2 separate regions of the Homo sapiens genome follow, and region 2 is linked to region 1. Evidence: fine-mapped expression QTL. Tissue or cell type: whole blood. Region 1 holds a variant in brackets; the other region holds the start of a gene. All regions are shown on one strand. Distances are between the middles of the regions.

Region 1 (8,000 bases):
CTGGATGTCGGGCTCTGGAGCTGGGGTCCACACAATCCCATGGCCGCTCGCCCCTCTCAGGTAATGCTGGGGTCAGAGCCCCATCTGTCAGCAAAGGTCCTGAGGTGGGGGCAGGGCATGACGGAGGCTTCCAGGCCATAGACCTGAGTGATCAGCTCTCCCATTCATACACAGCTGACCTGGAGCGCCTAGGCAGGGCTGGTTCCAGCATTGGCCCTGTCACTGGCCTGGAGCCACAGAGAATCCTGTTGCAACCCTGCCTACAGCCCAAAGGAGCGGCTAGCCCTATACCACCCACCCCTTCCAAGGGGAGCCTCAGAGGGTTTCTAGCCCACCCACAGAAGCAGCCTGCCCTGCTCTTGCAAAGGAAGACAAAAAGCATAATTAGTCTCTCTCTCGGTCCCCTGCTACCAATCACTCAGGGAGAACAATTCCCATCCCACCTGTGGTTTTGCCGGGACAGGAAGACTGGGCTCTTACTGAAACACTGGTCCCAGGTGGCTATAGGACCAGGTGGCTGAAGCAGGAGGTGGGAGGGGTGGGGAGTGCTGCCTGGAACAAAAGCCTGGCTGAGGTGGGAGGGGTCTGTTTTTCAACCCTAGGCTTCGGGAGTCACTGAACACCACCCAAGTGCACAACCTGGCCCTGGGGGAGAAGCTGCAGAACCTGGTAAGACCCTGAGCCAGGACCCCATTTCTTTGTCTTGCCTCCTCCCTGCCTCCCAGCCCAGCTCTCCTAGAGGGGCTTCGGGTTGTCCTGCATGGCTGGCTACCCACCTCGAGCCCTGCAACCCTTTGTCCAGCCCACCTTATTGTATAAGAGCCTGAAGGAGGGAGCCCAGGCCATCCAGGAGGAGGCCCAGGCCATCCAGGATGAAGTGAAGGCCCTGCAGGAGGAAAGCCAGGCCCTGCCGGAGGTGGCTCTGCTCAGGTGTGCGGGCAGCCATGGCAGCGGGGAGGGAAGAGGCGGCTGCCCCATGCTGCTCACTCGAGCTGTCTCTGCCTGCAGTGACCCAAACCCCCGGAAGGCAGGTCTCCTCTTCAAGCTGCCTGACCTGCCCCACGACCACAGAGACCAGGGTCAGGCCTGGCCAGGCCCCAGGCCAGAGGTCGGACACCTCCTCGGGAGGCCGCTCCTTCAGCCAGCTCCTCCCTAGATCCCAGAAATAAACTTGGAAGCTAAGCTTCAGCTTCACCAAGTGTCTGTGGGCCCTGGGCTCAGGTGGGGAGCAGGAGGTCACCACGTCCACACTGAGCTCAGCCCCTCAGCCACCCTCTGACATCACCCCCACTCCCTCAGCTCACCCATTCTGCATCTACCCCTCCCCGACATGGCCCTGCCCTCCCCCGACCCCTCACAGAAGGTTCCAGGCCTGGTTGTTGTCAGCCTGGAGATGAGAGCTCAAGGGCGATGTTCCCAAGATAAGCACTGGGGTGAGGCCAGAAAGGGGCCGCAGTCCCTCCCCGGAGGATCTGGGTACCTGCTCTAACTCCAAAGTGCAGAAGGATACTGGGGTGTAGGCGGGGGAGGGATAGGGGAAGAGCCACTAACCATCTGGTGACCTTGGAAAAGTCCCTTCCCCTTTGTAAGTCATGGGGTTGGGGGGCAGAGAGAGGTGGTGGCAACTCCCCAAGGGCCCGCATCCTATACCCCTCAGGCCTGGAGATACATATCGATTTTGAGTTTCACCTCCAACCCAGGAGCCCTCTGGCCCAGGGCCTCCTGGGAGCCCCCAACCCCCCTCCACCAATGGGGTTGCAAAAAAGAATACAAAAAACTGACACGTATATAGTCAAGGGGGAGAAAGCAAGGAATCCTGATAGAAGATTGCTAAATTACATACAAAATTGGTTAATATTCTAAAGGGCATTTATTTTTAAAATCCCATAACCCGGGCTGGTCACAGTGGCTCACACCTGTAATCCCAGCACTTTGGGAGCCCGAGGTGGGCAGATCACCTGAGGTCAGGAGTTTGAGACCAGTGTGGCCAACATGGGAAAACCTGGTCTCTACTAAAAATACAAAAAGTAGCCAGGTGTGGTGGCACGTGCCTGTAATCCCAGCTACTTGGGAGGCTGAGGCACGAGAATCACTTGAATCTGGGAGGCTGAGGTTTCAGCGCACCAAGGTGGCACCACTGTACTCCAGCCTGGACGACAGAGCAAGACACTATCTCAAAAAAAAATTTTTTTTTTAATTTAAAATAAAATAAAAAGTCCCATAACTCTAAGGCTTGTATTATTCACTGGGCAGAAATCATTTTGCATCTTAATCAGTTTTCTGTAAAGTAACCTCTAACTTTACAGCATCTAGGTCTAATGGATGGTAAAAGATCCACCATGCAGAATTCCTTCGTTAATCCTCGTGTGACACGGAACGGGCTGGGGATGATCATTTTGCCTTATGTTCACTGTAGGGAGACAACAGCCAAGAGGATGGAAATTCAGGTTTGTGGCTTCTCCCCAGGCCTGGTTTGACTTACACCAGACTCCTAGGGATCAGGCCTGGGCAAAGTAACTGATGAAGTGCTTGATTAGTGACTATTTGATTCTGCCCCAGCTTCAGGCTGAATTGAGCTGAGCTAACATCTCTTTTCTTCATATTTTTACATTTTATTTTTATAAATAGAGACAGGGTCTTGCTATATTACTCAGGCTGGTCTCAAACTCCTGGGCTCAAAGAATCCTCCCGCCTCAGCCTGCCAACATGCTGGGATTACAGGCATTAGCTACCGCTCCCAGACTAACATCTCTGACTTAGCAGCCCACCCCTTCTGAGACTCTACCCTCCTCACCCGATGGCTGTAGGGATCCCAGACCTCCCCAACCACCTACTTCCTGACCTGTCCTTGACCAGGGGCCCTGCTGTACAAACAGCTGTCTTGCAATTTTCCCAAAGGGAATCATAGGGTACTGAGGTTGATGGTAGTTGGATCAACAGCTAAATCAATTACCCATTTAAGGACTTCTGTCAATAAGATGCAGTCATCAGCATGGTCCCATTTGATGTTTCCTTTAAAAGGACACAGAGAGAGACTAATTATGCTTTTTTTTTTTTTTTTTTTGCGACAGAGTCTTGTTCTGTCGCCCACGCTACAGTGCAGTGGCGCAATCTCAGCTCACTGCAACCTCTGCCTCCTGGCTTCATGCCATTCTCCTGCCTCAGCCTCCCGAGTAGCTGGGACTACAGGCACCCGCCACCATGCCTGGCTAGTTTTTTATATTTTTAGTAGAGACGGGGTTTCACCGTGTTAGCCAGGGTGGTCTCGATCTCCTGACCTTGTGATACACCTGCCTCGGCCTCCCAAAGTGCTGGGATTACAGGTGTGAGCCACTGCACCCGGCTAATTATGCTTTTATTTAATTATGTCTCAGCCTGGGACAGCGCTCGAATAAGGTTACATGAATACTGCTTGGCTGCAGGAAATGGAGTCTATTACGGAGCCCCCTCCCCAACCAGCTCCAAACCACAGAAGTGCTTATAGATTCGAATGCATCCTGGCCATGGTTCTGCAGCTCAGGGATCCTTCACTGGCTGTCCTGAGGTCAGTCCCTGCAGCCACTCCTGTTGACACTGCATCCAAGCAGTCCCAGCCCAGCCCAGAGGTTCCTGTCAAGGAAGGTCCCACAGCAAAGCTGCGTGGGCCCCAGGGTGTTACCTGGTCCTTTCATTCACACACATTTCTCCCAGTCAAAGGAGGCTACCATGTGAGTCACAAGCTGTGCCCACACCTCCTGGGCCTCTGTCATCAAGGCACTGGGCTTGGGTTAGCAAATCAGCCTCCTCTGTCTGGCTGGCACCATTTCTCTAGTGAGGGGCAGAATGGGATGCCTCTCTCCTGCCTAGTGATGGCAGGTGGGATAGCTTCGTGAATGTGCAGGCGCTGCATTCTACTCTCAGCTCCACCCCTTGCTGTCTGGTGTGACCTTGACTGAGTGCCTGGACACACATCTTCATCTGTAACATGGGGTTCCACTGTGTCCACCTCGGAGGATGAATGATTTTGTGTGGACTTGGTGCATTCCATGTGTTGGCGACTGTTATCTGATCTCCAGTGGATCTACCCTGGCCCCCAAACTGGCTTTGCAGGCCCAGTGGGAGCAGCTCTGAGTACCAGTGTTCCCAGCAGGCTCCCTTCCCCACTAAAGGGCCTGGTATTCCTGCCCAAGAGGGTGGCCAGACCCTGCAGCCTGGCAGGGCCTTCCTCCATCCTGCAACGTCATCCTTTGGGAACA[C/G]CCAGCACTGAAAGTCTGTTAGATCCCATCCCCATCTTGTGAGGGCACCTGCGCCTGTTACGCAGGTGTCCTATGCATGGCTGCCTTGGCAGTCTGGTGGGGCTTACCCAGAGGGGATCTGCTTCCCAGGGGTCTCGTGCCCACCTTTTACATCTCTTATTGCTCTGAACACCCCTTGGACAGAAGACAGCTGGAGCAGGAGTGTTGAGTTGCTGTGCTGGCGTAGGTCAGCTTTGCCTCCAATCTACAAATACTTGTTGAGTGCCTCATAGGTGCCGGGCACTGCTCTGGACTCTGGGGCTTCGGCAGTGAATAAAACAAAGATGTCTGCCCTGGTAGAACTTACGCTCTGGGAGGGGCAGCAAGAAATAATGAACAAGTAACATGAGGATAGATGCAATGGAGAAAAATGAAGCCACAGAGGAAGAGGAAGCCTGAGGGAGGGGGAGGAATGCAATTTTATTTTATTTATGTATTTTTAAACATGGATTCTCACTATGTTGCCCAGGCTGGTCTTGAACTTCTGGACTCAAGCGATCTTCCTGCCTCAGCCTCCCAAAGTGTTGGGATTATAGGTATGAGCCACTGCACCCAGCCAGGAATGCAATTTCAGATAGAGTAGTCAGGGAAGAGCTCATTGAGAAGTGACATTTGAGCAAAGACACAAAGGACCTGAGGGAAGGAGCCCTGTGGACAGCTGGGGAGCAGGGTTCTAGGGAGCGGGAGCTGCCAACACAAAGGCACTGAGTCAGGAGTGTGCCTGGTAGGCTCAGGGGACAGTAGCAGGCCAGAGCTACAGGAGCCGTGAGTGAGGAGGACAGGGAGGGGACCGGGTCTGAGACATGAAGGGCTCTATGGCCACTGTCATGACTGTTACTCTGAGTGTAAAGGGAGACTTGGAGGGCTGTGAGCACGGTCGTGACATGGCGGACCTGGGTTTCACAAAGATGAGTCTGACTGCTATGTAGAGAAAAAAACTAGAGGGGACAAGAATACAATCAGAGAGGCCAGTTAAGAGGCCACTGCAGGCTGGGCACGGTGGCTCTCGCCTGTAATCCCAGCACTTTGGGAGGCCAAGGCGGGCGGATCACCTGAGGTTGGGAGTTTGAGACCAGCCTGACCAACATGGAGAAACCCTATCTTTACTAAAAACACAAAATTAGCTGGGCATGGTGGCGCATGCCTGTGATCCCGGCTACTCAGGAGGCTGAGGCAGGAGAATCACTTGAACCTGGGAGGCAGAGGTTGCGGTGAGCCGAGATCGCGCCATTGCACTCCAGCCTGGGCAACAAAAGCGAAACTCTGTCTCAAAAAAAAAAAAAAAAAAAAAAATTAGGCAGCTGGAAATACAAGAGTTCGGGGATGGGTTAGATTGGAGACATATACTTGCGGGTTTCTGGTCTATATTTAGTCATTTGTATTGGTTCTCCATTTTGCTGTGGTTTTTTTTGTTTTTTTTTTTTTTTTTTCTTGAGACGGAGTCTCACTCTGTCACCCAGGCTGGAGTGCAGTGGCGCTATCTCGGCTCACTGCAAGCTCTGCCTCCCAGGTTCACGCCATTCTCCTGCCTCAGCCTCCAGAGTAGCTGGGACTACAGGTGCCCGCCACCACGCCCGGCTAATTTTTTTGTATTTTGAGTAGAGACGGGCTTTCACCATGTTAGCCAGGATGGTCTTGATCTCCTCACCTCATGATCCGCACGTCTCCGCCTCCCAAAGTGCTGGGATTATAGGCGTGAGCCACCGCGCCTGGCCTATTTTGCTCGGTTATAATCACTCCAAAACCTAGTAGCCCAAAACCATAAACATGTATTATCTCACACAGTGTCCACAGGTTAAGAATCTGAAAGTGGCTTGGTTGGGTGGTACTGGCTGAGGGACTCTCGTGAGGCTGCAGTCAAGATTCCAGCAGGGGCCGCTGTATTCTGACGGCTTGGCTGGTGCTGGAGGACCCATTTCCAAGTTGGTTTATTCACAGGGCTGGCAAGTTAGTGCTGAATGTTGGCAGGAGGCTTTAGCGCCTCACCATGAGGCCTGTCCACAGGGCTGCTTGAGTGTCTTCACAACATGGTGTCCGGGAGGCCACGTGACTCTGCAGGCACATCCAGGGGCAAGGGTGCAGGCGCAGAAGAAGCAGAAAGTGAGTCAGAAGTAACCAGAATGGTGTTTTCCCAGTGGATGTGACCAAAGCAGAGAGGATTGGGGGTTAAGAGGGCTTCCAGGGCCTCAAACTGGGCAAGGTGAGTACACGTGGGAGGTGAAGGAGGGTGGGACGGAGGCAAGTGTGTGGGGCAGGTGGAGAGTGGGGAGGGAGCCAGCAGCAGTGCATTGCTGGTCCTGGAGGATTGAAGACCCCTTGGACCCAGAGCCATTGGGAGAATAAGGCAGGAAAATGAAAGGTGTTCATGTGCTCTAACTACCGTAAGTTATTTCTAGGAACTCCCACAATCCAGAATGTTCTGGGAGGGGCCATACCACCCACACAGCAAAGATGAAGGAAAGAAAATTGACTAAGTTAACGTCTGGTGCCTACAGCCATGTAGACACCAGTGGATTCCAACAGCCTGAGTGGATCTCTTGGGTGTCACACACACAGCTGTTTACACACTCTCCAACACAAACCACAGTCCCAGGTGTTATCACTCAGATGTCACACACTTTTGTCCAGGCGTCCTGTTTGTGACTTCACATGATTGAGGGGTTAAATCCTTCCAGGAGTGGGTGGGGTAGGACCATGGGGTTGCTGCCTCAGTCCCTCAACTTATCAGCTGACCTTGGCATCCCACTCCCCACCTGGTGGTGACTGTCCTGTGTCCTCATAAGGAAGGTGTATGCTCCCTGCACCGATGGGCTTCTGATAAGATCCAAGGTCATATTCTGGGCGTCGATAATCACGTTGCCAAGAACTGTGGCTTCCTGGTGCACCTCCCTGAAGTCACTGATCACATGACATCCCTTCCCAGCCACCCCTAGTCCTCCCATGCTGAACCTCCTCACCAGCAGCACAAGAGATGGTGGTGCCAGCAAAATGGGGTTGTGAGCAGGAAGGAGGCTGCTCTGAGAGGGGTCTGTGAAATCACACACACACACATGCACGTGCACACACACACACACACACACACACGCTCTGCCCTGATCCAGCCCCCAAGCTCTGCAGGCATCTTTGAGCCCATCCATGGGCTGCAACCTGCGAGGCAGAGTCAAGGCAGGATAGGCCATGGGAGGGTGGGAGAAGTCCCAGCTCAAGTCCCTAGGGACCCCCCCAGCCCCTCCTGGCTCTCCGTGAGGTCTGGAAGAGGCTCAGTATGTGTATGGCATACTTGGGGTCTCACTTCCCTCTCAGCCCTTGCAAATGCTGGAACACCTTTTCAGCCTTGGAGGACCCCCTCAGATGTTCCCTCCTAGTCAGAACTCCTCACTCTTTCACTGGGAGCATGGTGATCCTCCCTCTACAGGGCACTTACCACATGGCTGAACCTAAAGCCTGTCTGCCTCGCCTGCTGGATTTTGCTTCCCCACAGCCTTGCATGGCTCTAGTATAGCACAGAATGAACAGTGCTTGCATGTATAAAGGAAGGAATGAATAAGTGAATGGAGGGATGGGTGGATGGATAAATAGGAGGGTGGATGACGGAGTCCAGGCAGAGCCAGGGGATAGAAGAGGAAGTCACCTCGCCAGGGAGGCATGGGCTTCCCCTGCTGCCTCCTCTGGGACAGCCTCCCTTCCCAGGACTCCCATTCCTCGTATCGCTGGGCTCCCTTCAGG
Region 2 (8,000 bases), 110 kb before region 1:
AGACAGAGTCTCACTCTGTCGTCCAGGCTGGAGTGCAGTGGCATGATCTCAACTCGCTGTAACCTCCGCCTCCACAGTTCAAGCAATTCTCCCACCTTGGCGTCCCGAGTAGCTGGGATTATAGGCACCTGCCACCATGCCTGGCTAGTTTCTGTATTTTTAGTAGCAAAGGGGTTTCACCATGTTGGCCAGGCTGTTTTTGAACTCCTGACCTCAAGTGATCCACCCGGCTCAGCCTCCCAAAGTGCTGGGATTACAGGTGTGAGCCACCACGTTCGGCTCCCTGGCCCTCTTCTAAGGGCTGCAGATACCTCATCTCATTTAATCCCATCTAGACTGTGTAGATCTCATCATCCATAGGCATGGATAGCACAGAGATGAAACTGAGGCTCAGAATAACTGGCCACCAATGGGAAGGGGCCAAGCTGTTACAGAGCCTGTGCTCACATGTTGTAACCCTGGTAGATACCCCCTCCCCACCCCAACCTTGGGTCAAGGAACCAGGCCAGGACCTAAGCACAGTTGGTGTCCTGTGGACATGAATTTATTAGAGGGGACTGGCACCAGAGTGGGCACAAGCTGCAGGCTGGGAGGAAGGGGCAGGGGTGGGAGCACAGCCAATGGTGTGTCAGTCAGTGGGCCAGCAGGCGTGCTGTTCTTCACCCTGCAGAGCTTCAGTGCCCAGGGCGTGCCGGAGGCTTTGGGAAGACTGGGGAGAGGAAAGAGTGAGGCTCAGAGAAGAAACCTGCCAAGCTCACACGGGAGGGGCAGCACGTCGACCCCAGGCCCATGGCCCTCTCTCTCATATTGTTGGTCCTCACTCCTGCCTCCCAAGCTCCCACACCAGCCCCCAGCTCCTGTCCCATCCTGCACTCACTGCGGAGGGAGTAGGTGCCTGGTTCCAGTTGCATCTGGGGAGGCAAGACGATGAGAAAGTCCCCACCCCAGGCGTTTTTGACCCTTGAGAGATAATTTTGGGAGGGAGGGCGATGACATTCAGAGGTCAGAGAAGGGCACTTGGATGACACAGGCTTAAGCAAGTGGCTGCTGCAGTGCTGGGGCAAACCACAGGGGGAACAGTGGGGCGGCGAGAGGCCAGGGCCCCGGGGAAGGCGAACAGGGACCTGTGGACAGACCCTCTGAACCCCACCATGGTGGGGGCGCCGGTCCCGAGTCCAAGCCCAGTGGAATGGCTCCTTTGCCATGACCTGGGAGGAGCAGAGTGGACAGTAAATGGGGTGGGAACCCCAGCCTTCCCCACACCCCAGGTTGCCTCCCAGCCTCACCTCCTCACAGCACTGGCGGCTCACAACAGCCCGGAAACCCATCCGTGCCCAAAGCTTATCCCTCTGGTGCAGGAATTTCCCCACTCGTAAACACCAATCTTTTCCCAGGGCCCATGGAAAAATCTCACATTTGGGGCCCTCCAGGTCCTCCTCCATGTCGTTTGCAAGGTACCTAGCCACAGAGGCACAAGGTCAGGGAGCAGAGGCCACACATCTGCCCTGTCCCATCTGACACCTCCAGCAAATGCCTCCACTGCCTGCCCCCACCACTCACAGGGCCAAGAACAGGCTGCTGTGGGTATACTCGCTGAGCTTCAGGTGGGCGCGCTGGAAGTAGACCAGCACCATGGCCAGGAGATACTGCAGAGACAGATCGGGGTGGGGGGTTAGTTATTCTCTGAGGAGGAGGGGCTTGCACCCAGGTTCATTTGCACCCAGGGAGGTTTTGCTGCAGGGAAAGAAAGTCAGTAAAATGGTGGGAAGTGGTGTGCAAAGATGAGGGGGTAAGGATGGAAGGTGAGTGGCTCTCCCTACCAGACCAGGGCACTCAATTCCCACCAACTCAACCTGACCCTCAAGAGACCCCCAGCCTGTACTCCCTCACCTTATCTGAAATCTGGAAGCAGGGGTCTTTGGAGAGGAATTCCTGGACAAAACTGTCCTCTGAGGGTAGAGAAGACATGACAGGACGCAGGTTACCACCACCTCCATGGAGAAGAGTGGCATCAGAAGCTCCAAAGCCCAAGCCACCACTGAACCCTCTCTCTCTTTCTCTTTTTCTCCCTTTTTCTCTTTCTCTCTCTCTTTCTTAATATAAATAGAAATGGAGTCTCACTATGTTGACCAGGCTGGTCTTGAACTCCTGGCCTGAAGTGATACTCCCATTTCAGCCTCCCAAAATGTTGGGATTATAGGTATGACTCACGGTGCCTGGCCCTGAATCCAGTTTCTGAGAGGACACCCCTCCCACCTGCCTAAGCTGGGATACCTGAGAGGGAGAGGGTCAGAGGTCTCAGATGTCTGTACAGGCAGGTGAGACCCCACACTTCACATCTGCTTTCACACTTGACCTCACGGCCCCTCCCGTGCCAGCCCTCCAAACTCACCCAGAAGGCTGAGGAAGGCCTGGACCTCCTGGTGCTGGCGAAAACGGAGGAACCCATTGCCCCCACCTTGCCGGCTGCAGCCCCCCAGCTCTACCTGGGTGGTAACTACAGGGGAAGTGGTGGGGTCTTGGGAGTCACTCATCTCATAGGAGATGGAGATGGGGCAGGGTGACCTGTAGAGAAAGGAGGCTCAGGACTTAGCATGTACCCCCGTGATGCTCACAAATCAAGAGGGTGGTGACAGGGGCCAGGACGGTGGAGGGGTGGGTGCAGAGACTTGGGGGCTCAGAACAGAAGGCAGCCGGGATGCAACAAGAGTGGGGAGGCCAGAAAAGAAGCAAAGAGTTGCTATAGGTGAGGGTGTGGCACCCTCACCCTCCTCCTGGCACCCCAGGACAGGCCAGAGTAACAGCAGCAACAAGCACCGCTGAGGGCTTCCTAAGTGCCTGGGGCTGTGCTTAAGGGCCTTATCTTATTCCATCCTGGTAAGGAGGTAAGTTTAACTCAGACCGGTCGTCAAACGAGGAAACTGAAGCTGAGGCCTAACAGCCGGTTAAAAGTGAAGCCCTTGGTCTCCAAAACCCCAAGAGGTTTTTTGGTTTTTGTTTGTTTGTTTTGAGACACAGTCTCTCTCTGTCGCCCAGACTGGAGTGCAGTGGCGCGATCTCGGCTCACTGCAACCTCCGCCTCCCGGGTTCAACTGATTCTCCAGCCTGAGCCTCCCGAGTAGCTGGGATTACAGGCATGCGCCATGCCACCACGCCCGGCTAATTTTTTTTGTATTTTTTTGGTAGAGACAGGGTTTCACCGTGTTGGCCAGGCTGGTCTCACACTCCTGACCTCCCAAAGTGCTGGGATTGCAGGCGTGAGCCACTGCGCCTGGCCAAAAAAAAAGAAAAAAAAAACCCAAGAGTTTAACTGCTCCTCTAGGCCCCAACTCACAACCACCCCCGACCCCTCACCAAAGCAGAGTTGAAAGGGCCACTGATCCCTTACACCGAGGGGAAACTGAGGCCCTCAGGGAGGAATGAAATTAGAAAAATACCTGGATTTAGAGCAAGTTGATGGGGCCACTTCAAACATTTCAAGCTCCCGTCCTAAACCCACCCTCATCCCTGAGAGAGAGAAGCCAACCACGGGGCCGAGGAGAACGTGCGGTCGACCACCCCAGGGCCAATCTGGGCCCCTCCATCTAGGCGCCCGCAAGCAACCCAGCCTCCTCCTGCAGCGAGCCTTACCCGAGCTCAGGAATGGCCCAGAGCATAACACCAACGCCGCCGCGAGTGCGCTTATATAGCCTGAGGGCGGCCCTGCCCAAAGCAGCCCGTCCACCAATCAGGGCCTTCCTGGGGGGCGAGGCTTGGCCTTCACCGCCTGCCTCTCTGCCAGTGAGTCCAGTCGGCACCCAGCTGTGGCTCCCCAGGGTTTGAAAGCCTCTCCAAAGCTTCATCAACTACAAGAGGGGTGAAGGCAGGCCAGCTGGACCCCAGGGCCTAAGGCCCCATAGGACAGGCAGGGAGCTAGGATCCCTGTTCCCCTCTTGACAAATGCAGCGCCAAGGTGCTGAGCCGGGATATGAGACCCGGACTGCGAGGGCCTGGTGGGCGAGTTTTTTTTCATTGATTGTGCCTTGCTAGGGCAGGGTCTCTGGCTCTCTATGGGTGTCTCTGAATCTCCTGGCCTCCTTGAGTCTCTAGGTTTCACTGAGGCCCCCCGAGTCTCTCTTTTGTTTCTTATTTTATTTTTCCCCTCGTAACACAGAACAAGCTGCCTGGGTCTCAGTGGGCCTCTGAGTCTCTCAGTTTCTTGTTGCCTCTGGTGTCTGGATGTCTGTGGATCTCTGGGTCCTTTGTTTTCTCTCTGATCTCTGGTCTCTGGTGTATCTGCTGTTTCATGGTCTCCCCCAGGCCGCCTCCCAGGCTCCCTGAGGCCGTGAAGGCCTTTCTAGACCAGCTGGTCTGCATCAGGCCATCCTGTTTGTGTGTGTGCACGCATTTGAAGTCGGCCTCCCCTAGAAAGGAAGTAGTGAGTGGGGCAGCATCCATAGCCCGTTCACTAAACACCTACTGCTGCCTACTGAGGAGTCTGTGATGGAATCAGCTCACGTGTTCCTCACAGCAAGCCCGTGAAGTTGATGAGAATGATGAGAAGCCTCATTTTGTCAGCGAACAAACAACTAACACACAGAGTTTGGGTTGCTGACCGACAGGCTGAGTAACTTCCTGCCAGCCACTCAGCTGGTAAGTAGAGATAGAGTTCCAGCCTGGCTGCTGGGCCCACACGCTGGGTAGCCTGGCTGTGTGGTCTACAGCTGTTCCTGGACGCTGCCTGCACAGAGAAGGTGTTCCATGAAACCGAATGAATCTCCTAGACCAGCTGTGTTTTCAACTGTTCTCCTCCTCCCCCAGTAATTAAGGTTAGAGATCAGGAAGGTGTACCAAAAAGAAGCCTGGGAGTGGGCTAGTCACTTTAACTTTGGGAGGGCCTTCAGGCTGATTTCCTTCAGTGCCACCCCTGGAGATCTGACACCGATCTCCCACACTGGGGAGAATATTTGTTTTTACTTTTTTTTTTTTTTTTTTTGAGACGGAGTCTCGCTGTGTTGCCCAGGCCGGAGTGCAGTGGCCCAATCCCGGCTCCCTGCAACTTCCACCTCCAGGGCTCAAGCAATTCTCCTGCCTCAGCCTCCCGAGTAGCTGGGACTACAGGCATGTGCCGCCATGCCTGGCAATTTTTTTGTTTTGTTTTGTTCTCCTGACCTCATGATCCACCCGCCTTGGCCTCCCAGAATGCTGGGATTACAGGCATGAGCCACCATGCCCAGCCTTTCTCTTTCACTTTTCAGAATCCCATGATTCACTGGGCTCTTCAATCTGCCCAGATAATCTCCCCATCTCAAGATCCTTAACTTGGCTGGGAGAGGTGGCTTACCCCTGTAATCCCAGCATTGTGGGAGGCAGAGGAGAGCAGATCACCTGAGGTCAGGAGTTCAAGACCAGCCTGGTAAACATGGCAAAACCCCTCCTCTACTAAAAATACAAAAATTAGCGGGGCATGGTGGTGCATGCCTGTAATCCTAACTACTCGGGAGGCTGAGGCAGGAGAATTGCTTGAGCCCTGGGGGTGGAGGTTGCAGTGAGCTGAGATCATGCCATTGCACTCCAGTCTGGGCAACAGAGCAAGACTTGGTCTCAAAAAAAGATCCTTAACCATCTGCAAAGTCTTTTTTGCCATGTGAGATAACATATTCTCAGGTCTGGGAAGTGAAATGTAGCCATCTTTGGGAGTCCATTATTCTGCCTGCTACAATTATCACAGCAAAATTTATTCTATGCTAACTAATATACTATTTATAAAATTTATATTCATGTAAATGTATATATAATTTGTAAAATCATATATTAATATTGCATGCTATAAAGGATACACGTAAAAGGATATAAAAGAATACACATAAAACATAATAACATACTACCAGCTCAAAAAATATATATATGGCCAGGTCCATTGGCTCACGCCTATAATCTCAGCACTTTTTGGAGGCCGAGACAGGAGGATCATTTGAGTTCAGGAGTTAGAGACTAACCTGGGCAATACATCAAGGCCCCATCTCTACCAAAAATAAACTAGCCTGGCATGGTGGCACGTGACTGCAGTCCTATCTACTCAAGAGGCTGAGGTGGGAGGATCACTTGAGCCCAGGAGTTCAAGGCTGCAGTGAGCTATTATCATGCCATTCTACCCAGCCTGGGTGACACAGCAAGACCCTGTCTCTAAAACATGAATAAATAAATAAATAAGAATATTAAAAATTTCAAAATATAAAGATAGAAAAAATAATATGCAATTACTAAAAGAAAGCTGGGATAACTACACTAATATATTAAAACAACTTTAGGCCGGGCGCGGTGGCTTATGCCTGTAATCCCAGCACGTTGGGAGGCCGAGGCAGGTAGATCATTTGAGGTCAGGAGTTCAAGACCAGCCTGGCCAACATGGTGAAATTCCATTTCTACTAAAAATACAAAAATTAGGTGGGTGGTAGTGGCGAATGCCTGTAATCCCAGCTACTTGGGAGGCTGTGGCAGGAGAATCGCTTGAGCCTAGAAGGCAGAGGTTTTGGTGAGCCAAGATTGTACCACTGCACTCCAGCCTGGGTGACAGAGTGAGAACTTGTCTCAAAAAAAAAAAAAAACAAAAAACAAACAAAAAAACACAACTTTGGACAAAAAGCATAACTAGGGAGAAAGAGAATTTATGTAGTGATTTTAAAAATATACAGCCGGATGTGGTGGTGTGCACCTGTAGTGCTGGTCTGGGCAACATAGGGAGATCCTGTCGGTAAGAAGAGGAGGGGAAGGAGGGGAGGGAAAATAAAGGAAAGGAAAGAGGCAGGAAGAGAAAAATAAAAGGAAAAAGGAAGGAGAAGAAAGAAAGAAGGGAGGGAGGGAAGGAAGGAAGAAAAAAAAGTGTATAATTACCTAACCAGAATCCAGGTAAAGAAAAAAATATATAGTAATTTGTTTACTCCTAAAAATAAAGTCAATAAGCAAGAAACCGCATGTGTGTGTGTCTGTGTGTGTGTGTGTGTAAAATCAACAGAACCACACGGAAAAACAAATCACAATCATAATTGTAGATATGATGGCACATGCAAGGCAAAAAAGTTAGCAAAGCAGTAAAAGATATGAAGAATATGATGAAGAAATTTGACCTAGTGGACGAATAAGCTGGCACTGCACCCAACAAAGGCAGGAAAGCACGCACAGAACATCTTCCTAAAAATTAATCAAATGTACCCGGGCGAGGTGGCTCACGCCGATAATCCCAGCACTTTGGGAGGCCGAAGCAGGCGGATCACAAGGTCAGGAGTTAGCGACCAGTCTGGCCAACATAGTGAAACCCCGTTTCTACTGAAAATACAAAAAGCCGGGCGTGGTGGCGGGCGCCTGTAGTCCCAACTACTCAGGTGGGTGAGGCAAGAGAATGGCGTGAACCCGGGAGGCGGAGGTTGCAGTGAGCGGAGGTCGCGCCACTGCTCCAGCCTGGGTAACAGAGCAAGACTCCGTCTCAAAAAAAAAAAAAAAAAAAAAAAAAAAAAAAAAAAAGAAAAAGAAAAAGAAAAAGAAAGAAAGAAAATATTGTCTGTCAAAGTTGGAGGACACAACTAGTAATTCTTAGAGAGGAATTTATGACCTCAAACGCGCGTGTTAGAAAATAAGAAAAGCTGTCACGCTGATGAACTGAACTCCATCTTAAAAAGTCACAAGCCAGCCAGGGGGACTTCCGGGTCCTGAGGCCCAAGGGGCTGCCTGGGTCCCCATCCGCCAACTTTTGCTGTCCACACAGCCCCAGACAACAAGAAAGGAAAAATAAAACGCTGCCAAAACCACAGCGTCGGCATAACTTGAAAGCAGAGAAGGTCCAAACTTCAAGATAAATGTAAATAAAAAGAAAGCGACCATATCCCCGCACGCCGTCGTGCGCTGCGGCCTCTCCCAGGCACGAGGCTTTGTGCCAAGAAAAGCTGGGGAAGGAGGGGAGAAAGGAGTATCGATCCGGGCTGGGGTTGGTCGAGAGCAACTATCAGAAAGACTGCGACATTCTA

What was found. PIP is the estimated chance that this variant, and not a neighbour inherited with it, causes the effect.
Region 2: it holds the start of SPDYC, and the variant in region 1 is fine-mapped to the expression of SPDYC in whole blood (TOPMed, PIP 0.97).

The regions. Positions count from the first base shown.
Region 1 is chr11:65,059,482-65,067,481 of GRCh38, reverse strand. It overlaps a transcript of NAALADL1 not described here and a transcript of CDCA5 not described here. Among named protein-coding and RNA genes, the nearest start is that of NAALADL1, 4.9 kb to the right of the region's middle. RefSeq lists a silencer at 431-725. The variant C/G (reference allele first, on the strand shown) is at 4,236.
Region 2 is chr11:65,165,892-65,173,891 of GRCh38, reverse strand. SPDYC (speedy/RINGO cell cycle regulator family member C) reads right to left here and starts at 3,659. Exons shown (of 7, transcript NM_001008778.3): 1 at 3,631-3,659; 2 at 2,393-2,565; 3 at 1,891-1,949; 4 at 1,561-1,646; 5 at 1,287-1,458; 6 at 878-1,208; 7 at 518-709. The coding sequence starts at 2,534. The coding sequence ends at 675.